Homo sapiens: one gene and its partner. The protein of the gene in region 2 interacts with the protein of the main gene of each other region in a pairwise test. Each region holds a gene or a part of one and is shown on either strand. Other genes may lie near its edges.

What was found.
Region 1: the proteins of PLAAT1 (region 2) and POU6F2 interact in binary tests that used the Homo sapiens proteins (3 or more experiments, as listed by UniProt).

The regions. Positions count from the first base shown.
Region 1 is NC_000007.14:39,337,782-39,341,609, reverse strand, and holds part of POU6F2 (POU domain, class 6, transcription factor 2), read right to left. Parts: exon of another isoform or gene 2,490-3,828; intron 1,969-2,489; coding exon 1,595-1,968; intron 1-1,594. UniProt on the Homo sapiens protein: Probable transcription factor likely to be involved in early steps in the differentiation of amacrine and ganglion cells. Recognizes and binds to the DNA sequence 5'-ATGCAAAT-3'. Isoform 1 does not bind DNA.
Region 2 is NC_000003.12:193,268,135-193,271,529, forward strand, and holds the end of PLAAT1 (phospholipase A and acyltransferase 1), read left to right. Parts: intron 1-2,469; coding exon 2,470-2,571; 3' UTR 2,572-2,721; downstream 2,722-3,395. UniProt on the Homo sapiens protein: Exhibits both phospholipase A1/2 and acyltransferase activities. Shows phospholipase A1 (PLA1) and A2 (PLA2) activity, catalyzing the calcium-independent release of fatty acids from the sn-1 or sn-2 position of glycerophospholipids.

The DNA of each region.
Region 1 (3,828 bases), on a different chromosome or scaffold from region 2:
GATGGTATATAGGTACATCTAATGTAAGTGTTCTTAAAAAGCATTAAATTAATTTTTTGGAATAATAAAGTTGAATCCCAAATGCTGCCAACATTAAGGTTGCTGTAATCATGCCTTCTGTAAATTTGATGACACCTGCTCTTTCAGTAGGTGTCAAGTGGACAATGAAGACGTTTTTGGACCATGTTCATTTTAGTCCTAGGTCAAAGGTGTTACGTTGTCTCACCATCGTAAGAATTGTATAAATACATCTTGAAACTCCACTCATGAAAATGTTCAAATTGAAAGTAGCCCTGGCCCAAGAGCCCAGAAAAACACAATGACTCATCTCTCCCAAATGTGTTCATTTCTAGGAATGCTTTGGGCCACACCACTGAGAATCCAAATTGGAAGAGACAAAGCTATGGGACAACAAACTAAGTTCTAAAATACCAAGTCTCTAATCCACCTGCCTTTCTGTCCGTGTACCAACCTGTCTTTATTTTGTATACTTTTCTATTTAGGAGCCAAGGATACCATCGCTACTGTCATTCTCAGGCTGGGGAGAGCCGGACTGACTGAGGTTTATACCCACCACTATGGCAAGGGGATGAGATGGCACTTGAAACAGGTCCACAGGCTGCTCACTCTGTTTAACTTTGTCACAGTACTACAAATACACGAGATTGTCTGAAATCTCACAGGGAAAAATGTCATTGTGCAAGTCAAAGAATGGATGGCTTGGCTGAGTTATTAATTTCTGGATCTGATATGATGACATCACAGTCATTATGTTTTGAAGCTAATTTATTTTAAAGACACCTAAGTTAAAAATGGTTTTCTGAAGTTTAAAGTCATATATATATATATATATATATGAATGCACCTATCCATTCCTTCTCAATAGGTAGGTTATAGATGAGCTCTCATGGTTAGCCTGAAATATCTATTTATGAAGCTCTCAGCCTCACAGTAATAAAGTAAACCTATAGAAGTTTTATTCCTTTATAAAGATGCATATTGGTTGAGGCTCTTGGCATGAATTTAGAGTACTTGTTAGTCTGTGGAGTAATGGTTGGAATCTGGGACATAAGACTGGGGCTAAATTTCTTTGCCCTCCTAACCCCAGAGAGTCTTTAGAAAAATAGAAACAAAAGAGCACAAAGTACTTAAGGTGAGACACTGTTGTATTCATAATATAGAGAAATAACCACCATGCCTCATGGACAGTAGATGCAGTTCTCCATGGGGCTACAAAACTGTGCTAGTAATAATTTTAATTGGATGCTATCTTTGCTGCCTTCAAAAAGTATCATAAAATGGAATTATTACAGGCTCCAAATGCACTTATAGTGCTGGCCTCTCACAGAAGGAAACAGATAACATTTATCCTTTGGAGGGCAACAGAAATGGGCTTCTATTTGTTTCGTTTACATGCATCCCCAGTTGCCTTCTAGTTGCTTCTTCTTCCCTATGTCTAAGAGATCAATTTGAATTAGATGCTGCAGAACTGGATGCTAAGTTTTGTGTGGTCCCTCTGCCTTTGGGGATGGCACCACCCCATGGAAAGGTCCTTGGTGCTCCTAGGGGCAGACGGGAAGCACGGGGAGCATACCTGTAGAGGATTGGGTGGCGTGAGCGGTGAAGGCAGGCCATGTCCTGGAGACTGACTAGGTTTCTGCGGGGGGCTGGAGCTCTGCTGGGTTGGAGATGGTTGGTTCTGGTTCTGGGAGTGGGAGTGGGGTTGGTGCTGCTGGGGCTGAGGCGCCTGTTGCAGCTGAGATGTAGGAGCTGGCGGCTGCTGAGAGGCGGGTGGTGGCTGCTGGGGTGGGGTGGGCTGCAGCGGCTGCTGCTGGGACTGCGAGGGCGCCTGTGGGGCTGGTTGCGGGTGCTGGTTGGTTGACGGGGGAGGCTGCTGCTGCTGCTGCTGCTGCTGCTGCTGGAGCTGGAGCTGGAGCTGCTGGAGCTGGGAGTTCAGGGATGAGGTAGCTACAAGGAGAGAAAGCGAATGTGGAGTGAGATAACATGACAAAGTGTCTTGCTGGGTCTTGACAGCCTGTCCAGTGCAAGTGGAGAAGGGTTTCCTTTAGAAAATTCTTGTCCTTGCCCCCTGAAGCTCTTTGGTATTTAAGAGTGTTGTGAGGCACTGGGAGAACAAAGGTCACTTCTGGGGAAAGTTTAGAATTTCTGGAGGACCAGCATATAACACATCAGGCATTACTTTAAAAGGTGGTGAACAATGCAAGCCAAAGGTGTGTGGTAGGAATGGAGATTGTTTTTTAACTACTTTCTCTCTCTCTTCCTTTCCATACTGCATGGGAAATACATTCATGCTTCAAGATTTCATTTAGATTGTTGAAGTCCAACCAGTTTAGTTGTTTTGGTAAGTGTTTGACTGGAGTTAAGAACAAAAAACCAATTGTTTGCAATTGCCTTTACATCCATCATCAATATCATTAATGGTATCATTTTCACTTGCTACTTCAGATCTCCACCCAGTTGCTTAGATGTCTTAGTGTCAAATTTCTAACTGTTTTTTTTTTTTTTTAAAAATTCAAAAGCAGTACATGCTTCTCCATTTTGCAGGGTCAAAAGCCTGAGTCTGAATTTTTTGCCTGCTGATTAAAGAGACAGAACCCCTAAACTGGAGGGATGATAGCAGGTGACTGAACCAAACAGTGTGGTGATTAGACATCAGCACCTGAGGACAGGACAGCACCTAAGGACTGAGGGAATGAAATCATCTTTTAAGATCTTGTTATGAGAAAGGTAGAGTTGGTGGGAGAAAGTGTCTTAGCACTGAGCACGCAAAATTTGTTCTCACATGCCCATGTAGCACTGAACAATTTCTGCAGAAGGAAGCTGGTTAGTTTGACCTAAGAATGGTCTAGAGAAATTTACGGCTAAAAACCAAGTTCACTTTCTTTTTTGCCTAAATCTCAATCTAAAAGCTTTCTAACAAGCCCATGAACAAATAAACATATAAGGATCAATGTCAAACCCACAGGCCTTAGAGGAAAGTGTAGCTGTATTGGTGAAATGACGATGCAACCATTTCCAGGGGTATCAAATACCAATTCTGTGATCTCACATACCATGTAGGGCTTCCAACTTGGTCCAGTTGGGATAGCAAGTCCTCACTGAGCCACTGAACTGCTCTAGGTCTATGCAAGCAGTCCAGTGTGTGGCCTGCCTTGCGTGTAGAGCCAGGGTGTTCTGGGGCTTGTGATGTAATCGTAGAGATAGAGATGGCATGAGGGAGGCCTGGAAAGTACCCCGGCATCATCCCGTTTATTAGACCTTTTAGAGAAAGGCCTGCTTTTGCCATTTCCCCCTTTCTTCTAGTTTACAAAATCACATTTTATCAAAGATGTGGGAGCCCTGCTCTATTCTGACCTCCCTAGATCTTCTGCAGTCTGGAGGATCCTGGGGCAGGGGAGCCTGATCTCTTCTTCTGGTGGAGTTCCAGACTTCAGGGACTTGATTGCATCTGGCCTCCTGCCTGATTCAAATCGAACCTAACCTGATGTCTTTCAGGTGGGGGCACATATGTTAATGCTTATTTCCATGGTTGACTTAAATACCATACTGCTTCATTTTGGTTAGAAAAGCATTTATCTAAATCAGCATTTAGAAACAGGAAAGTCTGGGAATATTGGCAGATAGATGTTGGCAGACGGGTAGGTACAGCAGACCCTAACCTACTAATGAGCCTTGGTCCCAAATATGTCTCCCTTCCTCCATATCCGTAAGTTCATATTGCTTGGGTATTTGTTTTCCATAACAGCAGCTTGACTGGAAAGGCATAAACCTAAGCCTTTGAGTTACATAGACTAATTTGACATCTGC
Region 2 (3,395 bases):
TCTTTTATGTATTTTTCAAAATTTCTAAGAACATACTTTACTCTCATAGACCAAATTATGAAAATATCTCTATCTTTGTCAAAGATGGCCCACACTCTTCAGTAGGCCTGGACAAGGCAACACAGGAACACATCCTGATGGTGCTTCGGTGCATATGACTGCAGCCTTACGAGGCCTTAGGAAAGAGCGTTTTGATAAACCTGCCACACGTCTGTGTCCCCGCTATACTGCTGTCTAGACACAGCCACTCCAGGTTCAGCTAATGTTTCATTAGGCCAGGTACAGATCCCCAGAACGAGGCCTTTATTATGGCCCATGGACAGAAAGCCCTCTAAAGGATAAAGAATGCAGAGTTGGATTTGGTGACCTTATAATCCAAAGTAAGCCGTGAAGTAAAAGTTCTTGTTCATGTTGGTTCACCAAGAACATCCTGAGATGTTGTAATCTTGCACATCACATCCCATTACTCCTAACTCCAGTGGGTTGTCCCAATTACATGAGATTCATTATCTAGAATGAGACTTGAAATAAATGAACATTTGGAATTGGGGAAGCTGTCTTAAAGTGGCACTGCTTAAAGTGGCTTTATGATCATGATATCTGGCCTTTGTCATCTCTAGGGATTTTGGTTTGGGATCAGGTTGCCCATCCCCCAACCAGGCCTCTTAAATTTGTCAGCTTTCATTAACATCTTGTGTTTCTAGTGGCTGAAAGATACCTAGTCAGTTAGGTCTGCATCTAGCTGGGGCCACACCATCTATAGGATCCTGCCATTTTCCAAGGGCCGTACCCTGCTACCATTTGACACCTCTGTTTAAAGACACTGATTGCACCTTCATTTTTTTTTTATTGACTACCCCATTTCTCTCTATTAGACCTTCTTGGGATCTCACTATCTGCTGGAATTGTACTAGGGTTGGGCTTGATCCCTGTCTAATTAGTGACTCTTCCTCTTCTTTGGGATTTTATCTTATATCCTGCATCTCCCTGCCTCTTCTCCCCCGCTCCCCCAATATGGCATATGGGTGGCTCTGTGCTACAGTGAATTCTGATTATCTCTTAGGAAATAGTTTAGGTAAGGATTAAAATATAAATAAAATAGATAAGAAATCAAATAAAATCAAAATTATAAAGTAAAACAGGATTTTTCAGGGTTAGTGCCAAGTTGTTTGCCCTTACCATTCTCCCTGGCATCTGGGGGTTGGAGCAGAGACAGTGGGCCACAATTACAGGCCTAGTCTCTGCCCACCACAGGATGGTGTAGTGGAATGAACACATGCTGCAAACACATGGAGCCAAGACTTCTGTTGTGTCCCTCTTTCCTGGCCCTGGCCCTTGTGCCTGTTCCTAACAGGGAAGCTGCAGTTAGGGAGGTAGCATTGTGTTGCAGTAATACGTGGGTGGCAGGTTCCACGGTGGAAGGCTGTGGTTAGACAGAGGGCATGCTCAAATATGACCTGGGTTAGGCTTTCCAGCTCTTAGACTGGTTCCCCAGAGTCATTTGGGAAAAATATTTTGCTTTATTTGAAAGACCTGATTCTTCAATCCCAGAGAGAACAAATATGTTTTCAGAGTACTTGATAATTCTGAAGTGTCCGAATGTGACCTTTGGGTCATCAAATTGCACTCAAACCCATTTGAATGGAAGGCAATATTAGTTGAGTGCCAAGAATACCATGAATATTCATTAGTTCTCTCATCATCATGATGATTAATACCCTTAAAGCTATAAATGTCTGAATTCCTTTATGGACAGTTGATCTTGAGAGTGGTTTGTCTACATGAGAAATTAATTTTTGACATGATAGTTAACATCAGTATTGGCTTTTTTTGAAATTTGTTTATCAGAAAAGAAATTGTGTCTACCAAATAAGAGCTTATGTGTATTTAGCTCAGATGACATCCCTGAATTATTTGCTATTTGACATCCCTGAAACACACACACACACACACACACACACACACACACACTCTTACACGATACTTACTTTGGTGTAGACCCAACCAATCCAAAGTGTTTATTTAAGGGGCAGGAGCTGCATAGGAGAAGAACGTGTGTTTCAGAAGACTCAGCCTATCTTTAAACATCTTCGTGGAATGATCTCAGGCAAACTACTTATGATATCCCAAGTTTTGCAAAACAAGAGTGGTATATTAACCTCTTTCACCAGTGTACTATTATGATGAATGGGAACTGTGTTCATAATTAGTTTATAAACTGTCAGAGTGCTTTAAAAATATGAGGAATATATACCCATGTGTACGTATCTACATCTTTGACATAATTATACAAATTATAAATTTATTTCTTCATCTTTATGCAGAATTTTAATTTTGCATTGTACTTTAGATGTATCCATTGTACATTAAAACAGGTGTTCAGTTTAGGAAACAGGCTAAAGCTTCATTTAGGACACAGATGTCTTTAGAATATGATGTGTTTTTTGTTTACTTCTTGTTTCCTTATAGGCCAACCGAGCGATAAGTACCGTTGAGTTTGTGACAGCTGCTGTTGGTGTCTTCTCATTCCTGGGCTTGTTTCCAAAAGGACAAAGAGCAAAATACTATTAACAATTTACCAAAGAGATATTGATATTGAAGGAATTTGGGAGGAGGAAAAGAAACCTGGGGTGAATACTTATTTTCAGTGCATCATTACTGTTCCAGATTCCTATGATGGATGGCAGACTCTTTAATAAATTGCTTACTGATATTATCTTATCATTGAGCCAATGAAATTTTTTTCCCCTGCTAGCATAGATGTACTGTGGCAGCTTGAACGGAGAAGCAGTAGTCTTTTGAGTGAGCCAGCAGAAGATCTTAACAAAATCTCATCACATTTTATTTCTACTATAAATATTATTTTCCTTTTCCCCAAGGGTGGCCATTTTGCCAGAGGCATGAAAGACTATTTATATATGGTTTTGAAAGAAATTTTAAGAACCCCAGATTGTTAAGAGTTGACATCCAAATTCATGTTTCTTTTCTTGTTGGAAAAGAAACTGGGAAATTTAGCATTTTGGTTAGGCAGTTTGAGGGACTCTAATTTACAAGCCTTTTGGGGAATGCACCCTCATCTTCTTCCTGCCTGTGTAGATGAGGGTGGATGGGAAGAGGAGAGGCTGTTTGCTCCAGGGTTTCAGTTCCGGTGATTTGTGTGGAATCTACTTGCTTGTCAGGAGGACATGACAAGTAAGAGTGGGCTGTTATTTCTACAGTGTTACATATTATTCCCTTTGGATTTTGAAGTGTTTCAGGGATTTGACCTTTTAACCTTGAGAAGCAATCATTAAATGTTTGTTTAAAATGCCATATTTGGAAAACAATATCTCATATTTTTAAGACTTTTTTACAAGCCAAGGAATGTCATAATTTTATTCTCTCATTTTATTATG